Regions from separate parts of the Homo sapiens genome. Here regions 1 and 3 are each linked to region 2. The links come from fine-mapping of genetic effects on gene expression. A gene starts in region 2. Each other region holds a variant in brackets. All regions are shown on one strand. Distances are from middle to middle.

Region 1 (8,184 bases), 400 kb before region 2:
ATGCCAGGAAGATTTTCTTCTCTCATTCTCAGGTGAGGTTATAATCCAGTTTTAGCAAATGTTTGACAATTTAAAATACTTTTGAAAACTGGAGATTTAAAAAATGTAAACAATTGTAGGCACAGCAAAATCGTAGTTTTCCCTTCTGATATTATACATTTGGCATCTCTCTACAGTTATATTAACATAAATAAGGCAGCTAAAACGTTCAAAAATAGTTTTACAACATTCAATTTTAAAATTTCATTCAAGCTGTAATCTTTTGTTTCCTGCTGCCACCTAACATTTGAAGTTTTGATTCAGGGTAATGTCCAAGGTTTCTTAAACATACCATAATAAGTATTACTATTCCTTAACATTTATCCCAGGGGAAGAGATAAGGGAAAGGGGTAGCTGGGCATGATATTTACAGTGTACAAATAATGATCCATTGCCAGAAATGAAAACTCACCTTTCCACCAGCATTTGCTCAGCCTCAATAGTGCAATGCAACTTGGTGCTGATAAAAATAAACCATTAAAACCAAACCCTATCATGCAAGGAGTGAGTTTGAAGATATGTACACAAACTCAAAAATCTGTAAACTTTAGGACATTTTTATTTTTAACTGTATTTTCTACTTTTCATCCAAACATTTGTCATCATGGACTCAGAAGAATCCAAGATTTTGATCTAGATTTAAAATAACTCAAACATTACCCAGGGATTTTTGTTTAAAAATGCTTTTATGGGGATTTTTATTTTGGTATATTCTGGCACTTCCTGGAATGGCAGGTCTAGAAGAATAAAGTCCAAAGCACAGGGTTATGATCTCACACTGTTTAATGCTAAGCAAACTGTTGAATATTCTAGTTATCAATGGAAGAATTCCCAGAATAATGGTGTAGAAATAAAAACAACCTAGAAAATGTTTGGTAGGAATATACAAATTGTCAGTTTTGAACTTGCAAATTCTCAAGAGGTTTTCTTCTTTGCTGGGACTCCTGAAAAGTGATCAATTTTACACCCAATTTATTTAAGATCCATGAAAGGACAGCTTACTTTAGGGTTCCTGATATATAGTGACCAAGGAGATATAGTGGCATTTATGAGAAATATTAGCAGGTAAATTAAATCAAATTTAGACTTTTGGATTTTAGATTTATGTTACAACTATGTAGTCTCAGGGGAGGTCAGTTTTTGGTTGGTTGGTTATGTTTTGCTTGATTTGGTTAGATTTAAATTTTGAAGAATGAACTAAAAGGTAACTAACAAGTTAGAGACTGTTGAAATGATCAGAACATGGTACCAGTGGTGATTCTGGAATATAAAGAGCATAGTAGCATCATTCAGAATTGTTATCAGCATGCTGTGGATTTTCTCATGTTTTCCTGCAGTAGGTTAAAATTAAAAGTTTTATCAATAACTATTTTTTTTCTTAAAAATAATGTAGCACATCTTACATCTTAAAGCAATCAGCACAAATGCAAGTGATGCCTGTTCAAGCAGACTTTCAAAGACAGCACACACTGTTAACACAAAGAGCTCTTCCACGTTTCAAGAATACAGTGACGGGAACTGGTACACATAGTAGTAGGGAAAGCATTTTTTTAAAAGCTTCGTGGAATGTGAGACTTTAGCCCCTTCCTTTCCTGGCAGTGGATAAAACCAAAATGGTTCTGGCTGGAATTTCACATCTTTCTAATAATCTACTGGACAGGAGGGACCAGAGACACCAATTACCAATGAGTCACAAGAACAGACAAAAATTGTTAGTAGGTTTTGACAACCAGGAACTAAGGTGTTTTTAAAAAACATGTACTTGATGCAAAGTATATTAGGAGTGCACCCTAGAAAACAATGTCAAAGTGTTAGAAAAATGGAGCCCCTGTCCAGGTGACCTTGTGAGATTTCACCCATAACTTAATATACCCTGTTTAATAAAAATAATAGTTCTAGGTCTTCTTGAAGGATTGTTTAGAAGTCTCCAAGAAAAATAATGAGATCTATCTAAAATAGAGCTGTTCAATTTTATGTGGAACTTAGTGAAGGCTGTCTTCATTTGCATTGTGTGTTATGACAGTGGTCTGGCTGGAACTGGCAGGGGGAAGAGCCTCATTATTTGAAGGAACTTCACTGGTCATCCATTCCTACCACCACTGGATGCAGGAATCCATGCTACAGTATCTTTGACTGGCACCCAGGAATGATGGTCACCTGCCAGACCCCAGACCCAGACTATGGTGTGGGCAGGCTCAGTAGATTTTACTGGATGATTATTAATTTAGAGCAGTAAGAACTGGCAGATCTAGTGAAACTTACTCTGAGGGGAGGGCTCAGTTTCTCCAGTTTCTCTTTGTAGGAAAATAAAAATAAAATGAGCCAATTTCTAGAGACAAAATCACCTATAAAAAGATCAGAACTGAAGATTTTTTTTGTTGAGATGCTATAAAAATGGATGAAAAGCAACCGTTCCTCCCCTACCCCCAAAAAGAATTAAGGCAATTCAGAAAGTTTGGATGAGCCACAAGGACACCATTCTGACGTATTCTGCATGTTCTAGGCCTCCTTATGTCAGGGCTGGGGTCTGTCTTGCTGGAGGAAAATTTATTTTTGAAGATAAAAGCTTCAGTGAATTCTTTAAATATCTGTCTTTTAAAGAGCACAGATTTCTGGGGGGCCCATTTAAATTTGGATTTGCCTTGTACTCAGTGTAAAATATTAGTACAAAAATATAAAAGGCATGGCTTGATGTTTAACGTGTGTTTTATTGTTGTTGGCACCAGAAAAGCTCATGTTCTATGTTATGTCACTGTACATACTGTAAACAAGACTGCATTAATATTGTTTTCTTATGATTTGTTTCAATGACTCTAGATTTTAAAAAATACATTCACAAACTACCTTATGTTTAAACACAATGATTCCCTTTTATTTCTTAACTGTACCCAAAATCCCACAATAAAAAAATCATTTAAAGCTGTGTGTTTCAAACTTATCACTTAGAAATAAAAACAAAACAAAACATAAAAACAAAGATCAGTTTGCAACATAATTTAAAGAAGCTTCTGGTTTAAAATACCACAGCAGCAATATAAAGAGCTGGTGGCAATCACATTCGGGAGTGAAATCGAAATCAATATATTTTGTCCACATCAGCATCCAATTACAGTAGTTGTTAAATTCAATCCAAAAAGTTATTGCTGAATTTGTGGCATGGAATTTGAGAAGATAGTATTGTTCAGCAGCACAACCACAGCAGTAAAAATGAGAACAGGAGGATTTCATTGCTTTTGAGAGCTAAAGGGACCATGAGGAGGATATCTTGCTGATTGCCTGAAGATAATCCTCAGTTACATTCCTGCATATTACCTGCTTTAAATAAATGCAAATGACAACCACCTTTTCAGGAGGGGCATAATAATGTAATCCAGAAACTAGAATGTTTCCCCTTCTCTTCCCCATCTTGCCCAAACCACTAGATTGAAATGGCTCCATTTTCCTAATGTGTATTTCGTTCTCATTAATAGTACATCAGCTGCTTGTGTATTTAGGCAAAGTCAGTAAGATCGTAGTTTTTTTTGTTGTTGTTGTTCCATTTACAGTAATTATTTTCTCCAGAAACAAGCCACATTAGTTTTTGTCATTGGATTCCCCCCACTTCCAATTTTTTAAGAAGAAAAATTTGGTCAACTACTGTTTCGTTTTAAAAATGTTAAATGCACCTGAGATTGCCGGTTGAGCTCTCTATATGTCTCCTGGAGATAACACTGCTGTGATGAACAGTGAAACAAAAACAAACAAAACGAGGTAGGTTAAAACAGGAAGCGCAACACAGATATTGTTTGCAACACCTCGATACCACAGGCGGCCATGCTTGTAGCTTTGGAAAAAAAAAATCCCAGTCGCATAAAAGTTCAAATCATTTGAGTAAGAGTTTATAAGGACACAAGTCAACCTGAACTAAATACATACATACTTCTGCACAAATGTTGTTTACCGTATGTTGGGTAATTTGGAGGAAGGTAAAGTGATTAGGGTCTCAAAATTTTGTCCAAAGCCTTGCTTTCAAGTTCTCTAAAATTGGAGCCAATGATGCCTCTTGTATCTGAGGCAGGCTTAGGAGTCTAGTCCCTTCTCTCACCCACACAGGGAGAACACAGGCAGCTCAGAAA[CATTT/C]ATTATTAATTTTTTCAGTCACAGTTTTCATCTTGAGAAAGTGGCACCCTCGGGAGAGCGCTGGGAATGTTCAGAGCCTGAATATCATCCACTCTCCAAGTCCCAGAAAGAACTCAACAAAGTCTCAGTCCTAATGAAGCCCAAACCAAGTGACCTCTTAGCTGGGAGGCTTTGTGCATTTTAAAAAAGACTATGTAAGCTTGTTTCCCAGAAGCTCTTTCTGTCTGACCCCATCTGTCATCCCATCTTTTTCCCTGATCTGTTGCATAATAGCTGAGGGAAAGTTGTGTTAGAGTGTCCCTCCATCGCTAGGCCAGCTCAACTCAATGGCGTTAGTATCCTGTTCAACACACTCCATTCTGTAAAGGGCCATATAAAAATGTGGCCTGTCAGATTCACAAAAGTGGTAGTTGATTTTATTAGACTAGTAGTTTTAAGGCTAGTAGTTTAGCCATTTAAAATCTATTTCCCAAAAGAGGGGAAAACTAGTATTTTTCTTCTCTTTTTAAAAATTCATTAGCCAGTTGCTATCAAAAAGCAACCTTTTGGGTTGGTGAAGGCAAGAGAGTTCTTAAATTACTCCACTATGTAGTTATGGCCTTCAGCCTAAGGAGATAAGGTACATTTATTGTGCTGTCTCTCATCATTGGAAATTTTACAACATACCATATACTTAAAACTAGTAGGCAGACAGAATTTAAAAGACTCATTTTCGCAGTATGCATTCTTTCCCCATTCTTGCAGAGTAAAGGGGTAAAGAAAAAAGGTAAAAACCTGAAAACCCACCATAACACAGCTTAATCGTTAAGAGCACACAATATTTGTTTCTATCCCTAATTCCGAAGGGCACATGGTCCATCTTTGTCCACAGACAAGGCAGCATTCTTGGGGATCTCCTGGAAATTCCTGCCACCTTTTTCTCTCCTTCTCAACCAGGCTGCAACATTGAAAGATGGACTGTACTGGGAGGGGCGGAGGGAGAGGAAAAAGGGAAAGCGATATGTTCAACCAAGCCTTCTGATTCTGCCTCTAGACTGGCATAAGTCCACATGAGTTATGTTCTTTTAAATTAGAAATAACGCCATGAAGATAAGTGCCAAGTGCTCTTCTGTTACCAGTTCATCATGGAATTTCTGTTGAGGGTCATGAAAAACACTTGGCTACTTCCTCCAGATCGCACGGATGCAAAAAATACCTGTTTGAAATTAAAAAGAAGTTAGTTCAACTGCATGGTCTTTTCCCCTCTTTTCTTCAACCGTCCATCCATTTTCTCTCACATGTCCTATCCTTGCCATGTGTCAGGTCTTAAGACTCAATGGCTTGTGTTTATAAAGTCCCTTTGGATATCGTGCATCCTATGTAAAAACTCCTGCCTTTATTCCTAGGTTGTTATTATTCCTTATTGTGGTATTGGTCTCCAGAGATGCTGAAGGGGCTATATCTTCATTTGTAACATCTCTTTGGGTGTTCACTTTTTAAAAGGGAGTTTCATGCTAGGATAACGTGCTGGATTTCTGGTCTAGGACCCAACAGGTTCTTTGTTAATTTCTAGAAAGGCACAGAAGCTTCCCTTCTCTCACCCTTAAATGACAAGAAAGTAGACTTCAGGATGGAAGGGAATCCCTTCAAATTCTCAAAGTCAAGGGGGAGTTTTAGGCCTACTGACTATCATACAGTTTCAGATTTCAGTTTTTTAAATTTAAGATAAAAACATTAAATAGTGTGGTCAGATAGGGCAAGGTATTTAATGCCTACTCATTTTGGCATTTCAAGAGTTAACGCATGGTTTCTCTGCTGATGGTGGCATATCCCAGGGCAAATGAGATCATAGCATTAATGAGGAGAACCACAGTCCATTAGGTCTGAGTCTGTTAAGTCATTTTATCAAACAACTGACAAACGTGAGAAAAATTTGGGTTACTGCTTGCTTGAGCTGAATGTTTAATGTTAAAGAACCACTGCCCCAGGAAAGTAATATTTTGGGCTATGGCCTAGCCCTTCAGTCAGTCAATACCTAACTTTTGTTAGGTAGTTGCTTTTGTCACTAGTCTAAAGTCTCTGCTACTTCATTTCTACAGCTTCTTCAGAAGAATGCTAACAACAACTTCTTAGGGAGGTCTCTGGAAATGCTTGACATTCACCTAATGCTGCATATGAAAGTAATGCTACTCTTAGGGTCAATGAATCAAAACGGAGAAGGACAGAGAGGGCCTATGGAAAACCACAATGAAGAAAAGAAAGGGCTGCTCTTCCCTCCAAGTTGTGTGCCCCTGGCTGTAAACCTTGGGTTGCAGACAACTGGTGTGGCCCCAGCCTACTCCTAAGGGTGTGGCATGGCTTGGAACAGCCCTGCTGGGGTAGGTTTTCAATCGGAATGTGGGTATCCATACCCAGATCACTCCTGGTTTTTTGATTCTTAGAGACTGGGTGGGAGCTGGAGTTTTACTAGGTTATGTTTGTTTTCTGGGAAATCTAAATGGCTGGAACCATCTTTGCCACCTGCAGCTACTGTCCACCCAGACCACATCAGGTCAGAGTAGTGGGCCAGGGTTGAATATAGTTTAGGCCCACATCACCAGGTTTGGACTAAGACCAACCTGACCTTTGGGGAACTGGGGTGGACAAAGGGATATACAAAAATTCAACCCATCATACTGTTTTTCTATAGGCGTTTATGTCTGTGGCTTTGGGGACAGCATTTCTATGTTGGCCACAGCCACAAAGGATGAATTCACAAATGCAGTATGGCTTAGCTACTAAAACCTCGGGGTTACTCTACAGGGAGGGTAAGGGAGAAGCAGTACTGCTGCAGAATACCCCTCTGAGGTCACTGATCATGCCAGACGGACACAGCCAATTTCACTGGAAAACAGTTCACCTATGACATTTCAGAAGAAACATGGCTGGAATGACACAAGACATGGCACTAGTTGAGTTTGTGATTGTGCATTCCTTAAGGAATGGGTGACATTTTTAAAAAGCTTATATTTCTAAACGTCAAATGTTTTGGATTTAAAGGTGAATATAAGGTGATTGGTTAGGTCTTGAAAGTGACTTTGTGAAAAGTCTAAAAGTGGAAGTATAAAGTTGACCCACTGTGAGATGATTAATGATGGGCCAACTGCTCTAAGTGCTTAGGAGAATTTGGGGTGTCTGCTGAGTCATCAAAAGGCCTTTAGGCCACAAAGGTTTCTAAGAGGTTTACAAGAAATTTCTAAATGTTTTTATGTAGTTTTTGACATGTGAATAATATATTGAGTGCTCACATGGATCAAACCAAATAATGCCATTTCAAGATAATATTGATTGTTTAACACAGATGTGATTCAAATCAGTATAAAGGAAAATGAAGGTTTCACAGGTACCTGGTGGTCTCTTAAAATGCAAACACTAATGCAAATGTTGAAACGGATTTACCTTATCATTTCTTTCACATAGAAACTTTAACCTTTGAGCTCGCTTATGCATAAATACTCCATCCAAATGTCCTGTTTCCACTGACCGGATCTCAATAGCTTTCTCGCCCCAGCCCATTATCTGATTGGAATGAATGTAGGCTGTCAAAAGGAATTTCCAAAACTGCATTAAAAACATTAGATGGGCAATAACTCACAGCATCTGTTCACATCTTAACCACAAAAATGACAAACGACTTGAGATAAATGGACAAAGCAAGTCTTACAAGAGTTATTCACAGATTTTTTTTTTTTTTTTTTTGTGGAATCAAATGGTTGTTTCACATTTCTTGATTTTCGTTTCATTTGGGGGGTGTAACTGCTGAAGGAGATAAGGAATGGTTAACCTACCCACAGACGTGGGCATTTCTCCCCATTGGAGCACCACATCCTTAGTTATCCGGCCATAGGTGTTTACATACACCCCCTCATCCTCATAGCAAACAAGCATTTCCATTCCATCTGTTTTAGGCAAGATGACAATAGCATGAGGAGTGATATTGCCCTGAATCTAGAAGACAAAGAAAAGCCAAGCATTATTCTTTTAAAAAATAAAACACCTTGACTATTC
Region 2 (8,184 bases):
TCAAGCAGTCCTCCCACTTCGGCCTCCCGAAGTGCTGGGATTACAGGTGTGAGCCACTGTGCCCAGGAAAGATAATTTTCTATTAGATAAAATCATTGCAATCAAATGTTGATGGTATCAATTTTCCCACTAAATTCTACTTAACCATGGGATAGCATATTTGTACAGTGCTGTATGGTTTTTAAAGCATTGCCTTAAATACTTTATTGATTTTGAAACCAGTATGTGAGAAAGGCAAACAGTTGTGATGATTCTTATTAACTATGGTTAAATGTCCTACCCAAAGTCACAGAGTGAATAAGAGGTGGACATAGAACTGGGGAGACAGGGTTCATTCCACTCCATTCATTCAAGCATTCATTCACGTACTCATTCATCCAACTAATGGAGACTATGGCTCCAAAGATGAACAAGATCTAGCCTCTGCCCTCAAGAAGTCCACGGTTTAGTAAAGAAGCAGAAAGGAAATCACACACCAAGTAAAACATGAGCATGAAAAGTGTAGCAAAGGGATGTATGCAAGGCTTTCAGATGAGGTCAATTCTTAAATCTGGGTTTCAATGGAGAAAGGAATGGCTAGGGAATGAGGGCTAAGGGGAAAGACAAGTGTAGATCATCTAATTTTGTTCAAATACAAAAGTGTATGTGAGTCCTGGCAGAAGCTGAGAGTATGAGGTCAGCAGCAGCCAACTCCTGGCCTTGAATGCCTTACCCTGTGGGCCAAGTTAAGGACAGCCAAGGTGCTTAGGTCCAGAAATATGCTAATCTCCAAAAAGCTTTCTGGGCTGAGCTCGCCTCATATGTAATAAAGCACACTGGTGGCAACTTTCATCTCTTTTAATACTGAGATGTCTTGAAGCAAGAATGACTCAAGCCCCAGGTTTGAATGAGTAAATTGTTTGCTGTAGCCTATGTATGTATACACACATTTTCATACACCCACGTGGATACGGTTTATATCCATAATACTACACATAATATATGTATCCACATAGATAATACAAAACATACACACAACTCTATAAACCTCACATGCAGAGCCATCTGAATAACATGTATGTTTATACTGACCCCTTGAGACATGCTCTGATGGACACAGGTTACTCAGAGAGGTTACCTGTGCAGGACAACCATGTGTCCTAGGTGATTTCAGACAGTCGTTTGCCTGCAGAGTAGGCATTGAACCAGGGCTGGACAAGATGAATTCCAAAGGTGGCCTAGAGCTCCATGGTTTCATGTATCACAAGCTTACTTGCATGAAGTAGTTTCGCCATTCTCAATAAATAAAATTCCCTGACCCTGGTGAAATTATTCCTTTCTGCTATTCTTTTGTACTCAGGCAGAAAATGTATTATTGATTTCTGATTCCACCACAGAAAGTGTGACTTAGAGAAAAGAGCACTGAATGAGGAGTCAGGAAATCTAGATTATTTCCTCAAACCACGCTCCTCGCTGTCCCCTCCCCTTGTTACTGTGTGACCTTGAACAACTTACTTCACGCCTCTGGGCTTCAGTTTCCCAAGTGTTCAATGAAAGGAGTGGCTGAGTGTTCTACAATTCTCTTTCCAGCTCTGAATCTATAAAACAATTCCAGCCCATCCCTCAAGATTTAGTTTATCTCTGAGCTCTAAAAATCAGGGCTAAAACTGGATTCAAAGTACCTATTTTCTAACCAAAGAAGATCCTGCTTCACTCACTTTTAAACCATGCAAATCTTGCATAATTTAAATGATCAGTGCTGTCATTGGTTGCTCTGGTTTAAATTATGCATTGTTGCTATTTGGGGAAAATTTAGACTGGGTCCGGTCTGGAATCACTGGCTGAGAACAATAAGCCCCCAAAGTGAGAAGGATAAAGGCCTCTCTAGACAGGATCTGCTTTTAATGCTTTGAGCCCAGGGTTTACAAAAAGAGCATTGACTGTGTACATTAAAGAGCCACCGAAACAGCGAGGGACTGGTAAGTCTGCAGCAAATTCTCCCAGAAGCCACTGACCTTGGCTGCATTTCAGGGGTCAGGCATTCCCCAGGAGGGGCTCAGCAGGCAGACTTTACCAAGGGCTTAGGAACAAATGAGACATCTCATCTAGATGAGGCCACCTCTCCAAATGTGGCAAGGTGGAGATGATCTGCCCTCTGATTTGTGGAGATTACCTATGTGGCCTTTGGACCCACTCCAGCAGACACACCTCACCCACAAGACTGGTCAAAGACCCTGGCCCTCCAGGATATAACTGTCTCCACATCTGCATCTAAGTCTTCTAGCCAGCAGTTCCTGGTCCCCAAGCTAGCTGTTGCCCTCTCTGTTTCCACACCTCCCAGCAGGCAGAAAAACAGAAGCAGAGCCCTAAGCTGATAGCCCAGGCCACAAAGAGCAATTTCAGTGAATTGTGCAAAGATATATTTTCAAAATACAGATCACAAGAAAGCACATCCCAAGTGTGAACCGCAGTCGTCCGCCCAGTGGGCCCTCACCGGTTGCTCCCCTGCCTGCAGGCTCCGTGCTTGGTATCTCAGAAAACCTTCCCGAGGAAAAAGCCCATAAGGGACAAGTCCCGGCCCAACTTAAAATCACATCAGACTGCTTTCCAGTAGAGGAGCAAGGTCGAGATTCCGGCCCAGGGAAATCACCGCAAGCCCTGCGCATTGTTCAGACCCCTTCCCCCTTTGCCACTTCCCGCCCCCCACCCCGACCTCCGACCGATTCGCAGCACCCCACCCCCAGTCGGGGCCATCCATCCACCTGATTAACTCGCCGGCAGCAACTCCCAGCGTAGAAAGTAGGGCAAATGAACACACACAGTCGGTAAAGCAGGAAGCCACAGACCTGGCCAATGCACCCACCCTGTTACCAACCCCACCCCGCTGCGCAGGGGGCAGCCGGTTCTTGATGTGGCATTTCCACTCCAGGGAAATAGACAGCTTCCTGTAATAATGCATGAATGAGCTTTGGCTGCCCAACTATCAGAACAGCCCATTTCAAACGGCATCTCTGTTTCTTCTCAACTCCTTACTTGCCTTGCTGAAACCTCATCTCTTAGCCCAACAGATTAAGACGAAGAGAGAAAGACTTATTCAAAGAGATGTGGAGGAAAAGGTTTAATTAAGGAGACCAAAGAGAAAGTACCACTTTGATCACAAAGGTAGCACTTTAATATATCAGTGCAGATAGCGGCAATGTCAGAAGTACTAGGAATCCAGGTAAATGGCCCCAAGATTCAGCATCAATCTAACAATGTATTCCTCAGGAGGGCGTGTGAACTTCCATGCTTCATCCATCCTGGTGTCTCCCTGTAGAGAGCCACCATGAATTCCTTCTCATCCACCCTCCATACATCAAGTATATGCACTCGCTTTCTTTTTAATTTTATTTTTGGTTCGGGAGAGGAAGAAGCAGTCCTTAAATTGGTGTCCAATCCTTCTCAGACACCCGCTGCTGCCACCATCCCCACCCCTCACCCCCTTCCAGGCAGGCAGCATCTAATTAAAATGGCAAGAAAGCTCTGCCCCCTTCCCCAAAGGAGTGTGTTGGGATCGGGAGTTGGGGGTGGGGAAGCGTCGAAGCAGCACTTGGATTCCTGGTATTCTGATCTCAAAACAACAGCAAAATGGATTCTATATCAGTGATGTCTTAGTCAATACAATGAAACGGCGTCTGAGGTAATTCACGTGAAGGTAAACGCAAACCAGTGGGGCTGGGGGGAGGGAGGTGCTCTACAAAGGACTGGCCACAGACACGGGGAAAACACACACAGACACACACACACACACACTCGCACACACTCCAGGGAGTTCCGGTCTGATTGAGGAAAAGCAGAAAACACATCCCTTTCACCTGCTTAAGTTCAGCCATAAAACTGAAACGTTACAGCCACAAAGTCAGAAAGAACAGGCAGGGCTGAGTTAAAGCCATAAATAAAGGTGAGTGGCAGACTGGCATTTAAGGGAGCGCTGAGAGGGCGCCCGGGCGCGGGAGGTAGAAAAGGGGGAGGGGGAGGCAGTTGCCATCTACAAGACCAGCATAGCAATAACTGCCCCCTTGGAGCGGCAGGTTCGGCTTCGCGGGGACAGCCAGCCTCACAATGTCATCTTGCAGGTAGCTGGAAAACGTGAGGGGCCAGTGCCTTTATTCACGCTGGCATTCTTTTTGCAGAAGGGACAGTCGGGTCTCGCGCCTTGGCACCAGACAACTGCCCGGGGCGTGTACACACACACACACACACACACACACACGCACACACGCCTTTCATTTTAATGCTCTTACACCGGTATAAGATGAAACTGGCATAAGCTCTACGAGCCCTCGGGAGAGCCTAAGCCACGGCCAGAGGAAGACACGTACCGCACAGCCCCTGCCGTAGGGGCTCAGCCAGGAGCACCTCAGCAACCCCGAATCAAAACGGGAATCCAGGTTCCCTCCCCGACGCATTCTCCCGCTGCTGTCCCCCTGCCCCAGCCCCAGCCCCCAGTCCACGCACCGAGCCCATTCACCCTAACCCAAACCACTGGAAAGAAACCAGAAAACGTCCTGCTCACCCTCAGAGCCGAGAGATCTATTTCATCCAGGCTTCGAGCCGGGGAGTCGCTCGCCATGTCTACTTCTTCGCTGGAGAAATGGACCAAAACCACCCCGAAGCTTTTCCCTTGGAAATTCCACCTTGGTCTATTTCACTCGCGTCCTCATGCGGGTGTCGCGCCAGAGGCCCCGGGCCCAGCCTCCCCCGCCCACCCCAGCCCCACAGCGCCGGATCCCGATCCTCCGCGCGTCGGTCCGCCGGGTCCGGGAGCCCAGCCTGCGCGGATCTCCAAGCCCCGAGCAGCGGTGCGTGTGGGCTGAGCGCCCCGATCGGCTAAGGGCGCTGGGGCTGCGTGGGTGTATTTAAATGGGACATGCTTCTTTGCTTGTGCGTGGATGGCGGCTGCATTGGCTGTTATAATGAGACACATCAACTCCTCCACTCAGCAGGGGGAGGGTGGGGGTGGAGAACCACGCAGAACTGTCTATCACCGCTTCCTGGGAGGAGTGAAGGGGGAGTGGGGAGGCGGAGGAGGCGTGGTCTTGGACTGGGGAGAGGCCGCGCTTCCTGACCCGGTCCCTCTGCACCAGCGTGGAGGGGGGAGGGGCGCGCACCCTTTCCGCCCAGGCTTTTGCGGGCTCCTCGGGCCGAACCCGAAGGGGCTGTTCCTGAACCTTGACTTGTTATCATAGGGACCCAAGCTCTATTTTTGTGTGGCCAATTCGTGCACTGCAGCAAAATGGCCCTTCAGTCGCGTCTTGGGGTTTCTCCTCGGTTCAAATGCTCTCGCGCTGAGAAAAAGCCGGAGGAAAAAAAAGCGACACCCTCCCTCCCCCATTAATTATTTGTGGGGCCGGAGTAACGCGGGCTGGTGCAACCGGTGCATATAAGGACTTGTGTGCAAGGAAGGGGATCCGCCTCCAGGCGCGGAAAGAGTAGGGAAGAAGCGCACACGCACAGTGCACCCAGCTGGGCGCTTCGGCAGTTTGCAGCTGCGGCGGGGTCGGGTCCACCCGCGGTCCCCGGAATGCCGGACGGCTGATCCCGGGTGCTGGTCACTCGCCGATTCGGGGCTGGGAAGGTTTGCCAGAAGCGGGAAAGATGGGAGATCTGAGCGCTCTCTTGGCATCGCCACACCCAGGACTTGCTCGTGCCGCAATTCCCCACGGAAACAACCGAGTTGAAACGAGAAGCTTGCTCTCTGGGTGCAGTAGCTAGAAGGCTTCAGGTAACTCCAAAGCCAACACTGGGTGAGGCAACACACGCCGCCTCAGGACTCAGCATTTCTTTCAGGCTGCGTTTTCGTGGCAGACCTACCCAGATTGATGGAGAAAGTTTGGCTGGCGGATAAGAAGTAACGCGGAAGATGTGTACGTGAGAGCGATTTCACTTCACTCACTTTCTCATTTAAAGGTTGGATGTTTTACAGTGGTATACATGATTCTCCTTCTGTAATCAAGAGTGGGAAGTCGCTTCCCCCAATCCCCGCGCAGCCCTTCTTCTCCCGCCTTAGCCATGCAAAATACCTAGAAAGAAAACACTAAAACTGAACTTTTTTCCAAATACAGCAGTAGCTTTGAAAGCATTCTTTGCTCCTCTGTTAACAGCAGAATGTAATTCTGACCACTGCACTGATGGTTTCTTAATCATGCAGTATGAAGATCAGCTTCAAAATAAGTCTTATGAATGAATGAATGAAAGCCAGTGCAGTTAGTTCATCATGACTGCAGACATTAGAGGACTTTGAAACAACCTTTGGTGTACATTGTACTGTTTTTGTTACTGATATTGTATGTATTCATATGCATTGTGGATCATGCACCATGAAACTTGAAAATTGTTCCAACATCTCAATGGCCACAACAGTTTGGTAGCTTTTGCCTGTAAACGTTGTATGTAAACATTTGAACGTGTTATACTAAATTACTAAACTCATTTTTTACTAAAATCATCTGGTTCGACATAGTAAGTAACGTGCAGTAAGCCACCACGTCGAAATGAAAAAAAAAAAACAGATTATTTCCCATCATTGTCTTTGTTTTTTTCTCTTCTGTGTTCCTGTTTTTTTACCGTTCATCTAGACAACAGGTTAATGTATTGTCTCAGGGTTGAAAGAAGATAATTTAAGATCAAGTATTAAGATCTATAAACAACTATTTTTTTAAAACTGCAAACATAAGGAAATATGAGTTAAATATTTTTTCCATGGAAAGCCTTCGTTTTATACTCATGATTATATTTGAAACATCACAAACAGATCAACTTTTTTGACATTAGTGAGCTGTTTGGGCCACGAGGGTGCCAAGTTGGCATTCAGATTTAGTTTAGTTTTAGATGAGAAAGTTATAGATGCAGTATGATGCCAGGTGCTAAATGGAGGAGGGCTTCCTAAGAGCCTGAGAAGTTGATGAGACAGCCAGGGGAAGGCAGGGGTGTGGGCTGCAGGAAATACCATAAAAGGAGAGATTGCAGTATCAAAGGGACCTCCAACTGGTAAAGGAAGGTGAGAAGGAGGAACTTGAACTTTTTCCTTTTGGTCAAGTGTGTATCAAATTTCAGCTATTCCAGTATAAATTTCCTAATTTTTTCCTATGTCTCTGTATTGCCTGTACTATTTTACCACTTACTTAACATTTTTCTTTAAATCAACACTTTTTTCTTACACTTAATATAAAAGAAAACATAAATCACTACTCTAAATGGAAAGCCAACAACACTTGCTTTGAAAAAAAAAGGGGGGAGGAAACCATTAAAATAAATATAATGGAAAATAAAGAAGTATTATTAAATTCTAGCTAGCCATCAATTCCTGCTCTGGGCTTCTAGCCTAAGGCCTACTCTTAGTTTGTTAAAAGAGAGAATAGCAAATACCAGGAAAAACATTCAAGACTTGAGATTTTTTTCTTGATGTAATCTGAAGGATTAAGAGAACTGACACCATTTATGTGCAGTTTGAAAACCTGCCGAATAATACACTATGCTGTTTACATATGTATAAATATGTAGTAAACTATATAAAGCATGGATACAGGCAGTAAGGATACAGATTAACTTCAGGATAATGAGAAAAGAGGAAGAGGAAAAGGAGACTCCAACAATGATACCTAATTTTTTTGCTAAAGATTTCTGCCAGGCACGGTGGTGGCTCACACCTGTGATGCCAACATTTTGGGAGGACAGGTTGGGAGGATAGTTTGAGTCCAGGAGTTCGAGACCCGCCTGGGCAACTTGGTAGAACCCCATCTCTACAAAAAATACAAAAATTAGGTGGGCATAGTGGTACACCCCTGCAATCCCAGCTACTAGGGTGGCTGAGGTGGAAGAATTGCTTGAGTCCGGGAGGTTGAGGCTGCAGCAAGCCAAGATAAGCCACTGCACTCCAGCCTGGGCGACAGAGGGAGACCCTCTTTATAAAAATGAATAGAAAATTTGAATAATAAGTAATACTATGCTGCAGATATTTTTCTAAGCATTTGTTCTATCTGAATGTTTGTGTCTCCCAAAATTTATGTGTTGAAACCTAACCCCCATAGTGATAGTATTAAGAGGTGGAACCTTTAAGAGGTGATTAGATCATGAGGGCAGATCCTTCATGAACTGGATTAGTGCCCTGAGAAAAGAAGCTTGAGGGAGCCTGTTCGCCCTTCCACCACATGAAGATGCATAGAA
Region 3 (8,184 bases), 280 kb before region 2:
CAGGAGTTCGAGACCAGCCTGGGCAATATAGCAAGACGGTCTCTTTATAAACAATAGAAAAAAGTAGCTGAGCATGGTGGCATGCACCTGTAGTTCTAGCCACTGGGGAGGCTGAGGTGGGAGGATCATTTGAGCCCAGGAGTTTGAGGCTGCAGTGAGCTATGATTGCACCACTGTACACTAGCCTGGGTGACAGAATGAGACTCTGTCTCTAAAAAAAAAGAAATCCTCATTTCTGTTGAACTAAGTAAACATAGAGTTCTTTAAGGGAATTATTTCACGTATGGGTTAAATAGCTTAGCAGGAGGAGTCAACTGGGCTGTTATCTCCAAGAAGCCTGCACAAACAGGTTAATTTTTAAAGTCTGTGTAATAGTTTTTAGCTGGATTTTAATAAAGTCCAAAGTTCAAAGTCACATTACTACTAGAATATTCAGTCTAGTAGAAGGAATTTCTGATACACACACACGAACTTTGTCCTATCTCAAAAGTCTGACAACCCACCAAGAATCAGAACTGGTGCCTCATAAAATAACGGGGGTGATTTTTAGCCTTGGAGCAAAAGCAGGAGGCTGGGTCCAGGCTGGTTCTCCCAGTAAGGAGGCTAGAACTCGTGCAAATACACCACTTAGCCTCACTGGGCCTGCACACCTGCATCTGAAGCATGAGTGGCTTGGACCAGTGGAGCTTGTACATATAAGCAGTTATGATTTTTCTAATGACCTCAACTGAGTGCTGCTTTGCCTGTGTGGGCTCTTCAAATTTAAAGGGCACATGAAAGATTCACTGTCTTATACTTAATGGAGCCATTCCTATCCTTCTCCAGAAAGTCCTGGAGGGAAGCAGTGACACTGAGTATACTTGCGAGGGCAGGTGAGTGTGGATGAGCAGGGTGGCAAGAGAAGGTAGGAGAAAATCTTTTGAAGGAGATGGTTTACCCCTGCGAGTGGAATCTACGCACGCACAAGAGACAGGAAGAGAGAATGGGTATCCCAGTCTTGCTTTTCACTTGCTGGTGCTGATATGGAGGTAGAGGGTGAGAGTATCTTTGGTTTCCTCTGATTCCACAAAGGTTACAACCCTCCCAGACAACTTATTATTAAATGGCTGAGCTGCCTGAACATTCAGTGGTGCCCTAACTTCATCATCCCATACCACAAAGGCCTCTCCTCATCATACCAATAGGGAAGGAAGAACTGGGCTCCTGTGAGTGGTGGTGGTCTCCTTTCCCTCCACGATGACAGTGGAAAGAGCAGTGCCACTGCCTTTATTTCTCAAATCTTGAAGGTACAAGTTAAAAAACAAAAAAAAAGTTCACACTAAGAGACCAGTTTATGCCTTGTATGTTGTAGACTCAGTCATGTTGAAAATGATGCTTTATTGAATGTTTGCCATGAGAAGAGTTCATGGCCCTGTCTCAACAATGGCGCCCCCTTTGGTCAGGTGTTGATATATACACTGAGAACAAGGCATTTAACCCGGTAACTCATTTAGGTAGAGAATAGCTGGAAATAAAAGAATGTTTTGGAATTTTGTCTCTTGGTCGGGGGAGGGAGTCTTTTCCTCTTAAATAATTAAAATAAAAAACATAAACAAAATGTTTCATTTCCTCTCAAACACTAGAGTCTATTAAAGTAAACCCTAACTTACTTCAAATCACTTTGGACCTGCGCTTTCAAGATAAAATACTCTGAAGTGTTTAAATATTTTCACTTAAAAACTGGTGGAATTGTATTGCAGAGAAATGGGAGCCATGTCTGCTGTCAAGTATCATGTGCCTGGAGGCTGCACCACCACCTCTACAAAGGCTGGGATCGAAGTGTGAAATGGCACATTATCAGGGCTTTTGTTTCCCCGGTCTCTCTCTAGCAATCAGGTTACTTTTCCTTTCCCTGTCTGACAATATGGGACTTGTTCCCATAGCTTTCCTACTCAGTTTTCCTTACACATCAGGGAAAGGTGTGCAAGGTGGCAGGATGAGATGAAATTGGCCTGGACTTCTCAGTGTTTCCAAACTTCTCCTGCTCCCTCCAGCATTATTAAAATTAGTTGTTGTCAAAGGTTTGAAGCCGAAAAATCAGACTGCATTGTCCTAAAAGTTTGTATTTCTCAAACAAGGTCAGCACACCGTTGATCTTTTTTGGGTCTCAGTCGGTGAAAACTGACACTGTAGGGCAAGGGCTGTTCACTCACTTTTCTGTGGGGTCAGGTAGGTCACAAAAAGGGGTGGTGTAGACCATGGTTAAGATGAAAACAGGAGATGTGGCCAGGCGCGGTGGCTCACGCCTGTAATCCCAGCACTTTGGGAGGCCGAGGCGGGCGGATCATGAGGTCAGGAGATCAAGACCATCCTGGCCAACACGGTGAAACCCTGTCTCTACTAAAAAAAAAAAAAAAAATACAAAAAATTAGCAGGGCATGGTGGCGGGCGCCTGTAGTCCTAGCTACTCAGGAGACTGAGGCAGGAGAATGGCGTGAACCCGGGAGGCAGAGCTTGCAGTGAGCCGAGATCGTGCCACTGCACTCCAGCCTGGGCGACAGAGCGAGACTCCGTCTCAAAAAAAAAAAAAAAGAAAAGAAAAGAAAAGAAAACAGGAGATGTATACTAACCAACTGACACCAGCTTCTGAGTTGGGGGGAGGTGGCAGCTGGAGGAGAAGGACAATCACTTGTCCTAAATGGGAGCAGCAGCTAGCATCTTTGCAGGCAGTTCACTGCATCTTTGCAAGAAAAAGGCCAGAAATCTAAATGTAATGCTCAATTGACAGATTTTTAAGTGTTGCCAATTAATACACATATTTTTAAAACAGGGTATATGACCATAGTGTGACAGCCAAATACATTTGTGGAGGGCCAGTTTGTCCTCCTCTGTGGAAAAGCTCAGAATACGTGTCCTGCAGCAGTAAAGGGAGACAAGGAGAAGATAGGGCAGGGAACAGGGTAAGTAAAGCCCACTGTATACACCAGACTCAGCTCAGATATCAAGCAGGAACCTAGCAGAGGGCTTTGTAGTGTCACTGTCACTTCCAGGGAAGAGAACTGCGCCAGTCCCTCTCCCCGGGAGTCTGATCCAGGGAGAAGAGAGGAAGCAGGGTGTTGGGGTGCTTTGCCGATCACATGATGTATGACACCCAATGGGAGGGCTGTTGCTGGGGAGAGAAGGGTTGTCTTGCACCACAATGACCCTCTGCAGAGGAAGGAGGAGCAGGGAACGCTCTGCCTCCTTGTTACCAATAGCAACTCTCACTCCCCTCGCAGGGCCCGGCAATTCTGAGGCTGCCATCTCTTTTCTGGCTGTTTCCTTCCCTCTTTCTGTGCAGTGTGCCCTTTCCTCTGTTCCACCAGGGTGGCTCTCATTAGTAGATGACTGGTGGTAATTAAGGCTGCCCCCTGTATGGTAGAGGTGAGCCTGTGTGTGGGTGGGTGGGAAACATGAGGACCCCAGTCAAGCGCCTGATCATGAAGGGCTATGGAAAGGGGCAGAAGGATCCTGTCCCTCATGGTCTCACTGCCCAGGACTTATCTCTAGAAAAAGGATAGGAGGTCACAAATAGTGCAGGAATTGACCTCAGACCATGAGTAATCCGAGATTCAAGAATGTATCAGGGAGGATACACCATTTCCATAGGAAGAAAGGAGGAAGCAATGAATTTTGGTTATGGAATAATAAGATAGGAAGATCCCAACTATATAATTATCCCCAAAAAGTCAAACATCCAACATCTGGCTTAACCTGTAGAACTGTTTCCCAAATGTCAGTCAGTCATATCCTATCAACATAATTTTTGCCGTACCCTCACACCACTCATACTAGTATTCATGTAGTAGTTTCCTTTAAATTAAGCCACTGTTTTATGTAAGTTTATCAAAAGGAAAAGTTAAATCGCTGCCCCAAATAAGAAGCCAGTATCACCTGCCATATGTGAAAACAGTAGTAAAAACAAAAAAACTGCAAATGCTCATACACGAGCCAGAGAAATAATCTCAAACATTACCTGGTATGTATATGCACTTAGGGAATGATTGTTGTAAGGAATAGAAGAGAAATCAGCCAATCTAACAGGCTGACTCTCTAAACTATCACCCTCTCTGATAAGCTGTTCTGTGCTGCCAGGAAAGATATGACTTGGAGTTATAGATCAAAGAGCTTTCATGTTATTACTTGGCTTCACTTACCCATTTTGGCTAATAATTTCTTACCTTAAAGGTGGGGGAATAAAGACCTGCTGTACAAACAGTAGATACTCAATATATACTTTAAGATGAATGACAGCATATGGAAAGTAATTCACCAAGTCATCATACATGTTAGTCTCATTCTATCAGCAGGACCTAGGGATTAGAGCTAATCCAAAATAGAATCACAAGAAAACCTCACCCTTAGATCTGCGAAACATCGAAGACCAAACTCACCACTTCTTAGACTTCAGCCGAGGCGCTGGGTTCCGGGGGATGAGGAAGAGAGCTCTCATGGGGTGCATGTCACAGAGAGCTGCAAGAGACCAAAACAAGGGCCAGCTACAGTTAGGAGGCCAAACCCAGGCCAAGCCCGTCTTGGCTGTGCAGATAATGGCTGCCCAATGACC[C/T]ACTCAGTTTACACACCACCAGTGAGCACAAAGTCAGAATATCCAAATGCTTCTGAGCATTTGAAAGATCCAATATCCACTTACAGGAGTCTCATAAAATACAACATGGTTCACATAGCTACTGCTAACATTTCTAGTGAATACATGTTTACTTCATATTTAAGGAAACTAAGTTAAAGGGTCAACAACCAGCCATCCTTGCTGTGAATGACCACCTGACATTTAAAGTAAATACCATCAGATGACAACTACAATGGAGATGGTAAGCTATTTTTAATTAGTAAAAGCCTAAGCCATAAATAAAAGGCATTTCATTATCCCGTCTATTTCTTACACGTCGACAGCTCATCCAAATGCAATTGTTATCTACACAGATTTTTGGAGTCCAAAACACCAGCCCCAGAGCCCCATTTTCTCTGTTTCCAGATATCCCGAATGGCTTTTCAGGTTTCGTAACGGGTTTTGTTTCATTTTGTTTTTAAATTCACTGGCCCCAGGAAGCCCAGAGGATTAAGTCACACAGAGTCTGGCAGAAAAACAAAGTTATAAAAAGATCTCATCTTGTAAACATGACATTATCGTTTATAGTGAAAGCACTCATATGTTCTTATTTTAATAAAATATTTTATTAGTTTACTTTTCAAACATCTGGGAGAATTTCTACTTTGTAGCTAGAATAAGAATATATGCTCCCTAAAAGCCAAAGGATTCTGTGGGCAGAAGTTTATTTTTAGCCCTGTCTACCACTCATCAAGAATGATAATATGGTTTAAGACTGCAATATATTATTTTTCTGATTCACACATGCCTATTAGCATTGTGAATGAGGGCAATTTTGTCAACCAGCACTCCAAATCAATCATGCTACAGATGAGTTCTACCAATTCTAGACTGGGAAGTAAGAAAACGATGACAACCCGAAGGTAAAAGTCATAAGTATAATGACCTGTCGTGCAAATAAAGGGCCTATTTTTGTCCTAGTCCTTTGAGATGCAGACACCAAGGATATTACTGGGTAAATTACTATGTGAATGGAAACAGGGAAGGAGCCAGGCAGTATGGGAAGTCATCAGATTGCTATGCAAGTCTGACCCTGAGTGAAGGAGAGAGGGAGAAAAGGTAGGTGGAAGGGTCCCAGCCTGTCCTGCAGGTCTTGTAAAGTCATAGGGGATTACTTGGGTGAAAGTTGCCTACAAAGGAATCTTGTGTCCTCCAGGAAAGGGCCTGCCTTAGTATCCCCACTGTGCTAGGTCACTGGCGGGGAGTGGCCCTTGAAAGGTGCGGCCTGCTGCCATTGCAGCAGCTGGGGCTGACAATCAGTTACACTTCCTATATGGAAGTCTGTGAGGCACAGTCTCATGACAGAGACTCTCTGCTGGGGCCAATACTCCAAATCTCAAGGAACTGAGATTCTCAAGACTGCTGGAGCCCTAGCCACTCTGTCTCAAATAGCAGGGAAATCTAAAATTTTAAACATCAGTATTTTAAGAGGAGTGATAGCCATTGAGTGGAGTCTTTGTATAACCTGTGCACTGAAAATTAATTTTGGATTTTCATACATTGGAGTTTATAGTCTTGTGAGTTGGTCACAGTTTTATGTCAGGTGAGGAGTAGTCCAAGAATAAATGATGTACAGAATCTGTAAAACAAACAAGACTCCCCAAAGTATGCTTTCTTTTTCTTCCTTTTTTTTTTTTCTAATAAAAACAGGATTCTCCCACTGCTCTGAAATGAATGGATTCCTGGTTGATTTAAGATGACTCTGCTTTCTAAATATGCCAGCTTGAATCCATGCAGGGCTCGGTGTAGTGGAAGTAAAGCAACTGCAGCTCCTGGCAAGGAAACTTCAGTACCTGCAGAGCAGACCAGCAACAGATTTCACCCCAGAGGAGGGTACTTACGGGGAGCACCTTCTGCCATTTCAATGGCGGTGATACCCAAAGACCACAAGTCACTCTGAAAAAGAAGGGGCAGACACACACATAAATTCAGTCAACAAAGGACAACTTGGTTAAACCTGGTAATTGCTTCAGAACTTCCTGTGAAAGTCATTCAGTTTTCTGTTTACAAACCTATTTCTTCCACTAACCTTCAAAGCAGAAACAGTCTTACTTTTCATTGACAGTACCACTCATGGTGTCTGGCACATGGCAGCTTATCAATAAATGTATGAAAAATGAATATAAACAATTTTAAATTAATTCGTTACTGAAACTTATCTGTGGGTTGAACCATAGGAAATTGCTGCTATTTGACTGTTTATAACACCATCATTGAGCTATAATTGTCATATAATAAACTGTACCTAAAGTACACCATTTGATAAGGTATGACGTAGGGATCCTCCTGTGAACACATCATCACAGTCAAAACAGTAAACATACCCATCATCCCCCAAAGATCTCATTTGCCTCCTTCCTTTCCTGCCTGAACCCATCCCCACTCTCCTGTCCCTAGGCAACCAATGATCTGCTTTCTGTCACTATGAATTAGTTTGTAACTTCCAAAGTTTTGTATAAGTGAAATCACATCATATGTGGTCTTATGTATTCGATCTGTTTCACGTAGAATAGTGTTTCTGAAGTCCACCCATGTTGTAGTACATATCAGTATCTCACTCCTTTTTATTGTTGTGTAGTATTCCATTCTATGGACATATCACTGTTTTTGCATTTGGACTGTTTCTAGTTTGGGCTATTACAGATACAGGTGCTGCAAACATTGGTGTACAAATCCGAGGGTGTATGCTTTTATTTCTTTTAGTTAAATACCTGAGAGTGGAATGGCTGGATCAGATAGTAGGTGTTATTTATATTCAATTGGTTTAACTAGAAAAACAGCAATTTCATATGGTTTTACCTAATAAGATGAGGACAGGGAGACTTTTTGATGATGGCATTCACTGATGTCTCTCTTGTGCTTAGATCAGAGTTGGGCACAGTAGGAGGTACTCAAAGTATTTGTTGAAAAGATAAACAATTATTGCCTATTTTGTGAGTAGACTAGTATGTAACAATAGAGGCCAGTATACCTTTATATTATTTCTTATGCTCAGAGTGACTTTTATTCTCTGAACAGAATTTTCTAGGCTAATGCCTCCATTTCTACCTGTACAATCTCCATCTCTAACAATATTCTCCTCCCATACTCTGTCTGTGGCTCAGTAGTCTCTAAATATTGCATGAGAGGGGGAATATCAAGAGATGGGGAAAACCTGGTTAGAAAACACCAAGAAGAGGCTTGCTGCCTCAGTTTCACAGCAGATTGGTAAGAAAATCTAGTATCAAATTTGGTTCAATGGCCCACATCCTAATATAGATATTTCATTTTAAATACCTCATGCATTTTGTACATTTTTCAAAATTGTCTCAGATTAGAGTGATCAAAGGTAAGTTTCCTTGCTATTGCCATCAAACAAATGTCAAGGCCACATGAAAAAGAGATGTAACTGGAAGAGAGCTTCATAAAATTCATAACCTTCATGCTGAGTCACTCCCCAGAACTAAGTTTCTCAATATCCTGTGAAATGACACTCAGGGCTCTTCAGTAATTGGGCAGAGGTCTGCACAATGTGGAGGGGGTTTTCTAGGGGGTCTAGC

What was found.
Region 1: its variant is fine-mapped to the expression of TNIK in whole blood (TOPMed, PIP above 0.99).
Region 3: its variant is fine-mapped to the expression of TNIK in skeletal muscle (GTEx, PIP 0.99).

Annotation. Positions count from the first base shown.
Region 1 is chr3:171,058,612-171,066,795 of GRCh38, forward strand. It overlaps TNIK (TRAF2 and NCK interacting kinase), which reads right to left. Exons shown (of 33, transcript NM_015028.4): 31 at 7,965-8,124; 32 at 7,576-7,715; 33 at 1-5,353. The coding sequence ends at 5,270. Among named protein-coding and RNA genes, the nearest start is that of SLC2A2, 36 kb to the left of the region's middle. RefSeq lists an enhancer at 3,059-3,637. The variant CATTT/C (reference allele first, on the strand shown) is at 4,155.
Region 2 is chr3:171,455,473-171,463,656 of GRCh38, forward strand. It overlaps TNIK (TRAF2 and NCK interacting kinase), which reads right to left and starts at 4,933. Exons shown (of 33, transcript NM_015028.4): 1 at 4,535-4,933. The coding sequence starts at 4,591. LOC124906303 (a long non-coding RNA gene) reads right to left here and starts at 2,699. Exons shown (of 2, transcript XR_007096168.1): 1 at 2,474-2,699. LOC102724479 (a long non-coding RNA gene) reads left to right here and starts at 3,746. Exons shown (of 3, transcript NR_189068.1): 1 at 3,746-3,919. RefSeq lists a silencer at 4,563-4,622 and an enhancer at 5,634-6,134.
Region 3 is chr3:171,170,840-171,179,023 of GRCh38, forward strand. It overlaps TNIK (TRAF2 and NCK interacting kinase), which reads right to left. Exons shown (of 33, transcript NM_015028.4): 8 at 6,487-6,541; 9 at 4,413-4,491. Among named protein-coding and RNA genes, the nearest start is that of MIR569, 68 kb to the left of the region's middle. RefSeq lists a silencer at 3,236-3,305. The variant C/T (reference allele first, on the strand shown) is at 4,586.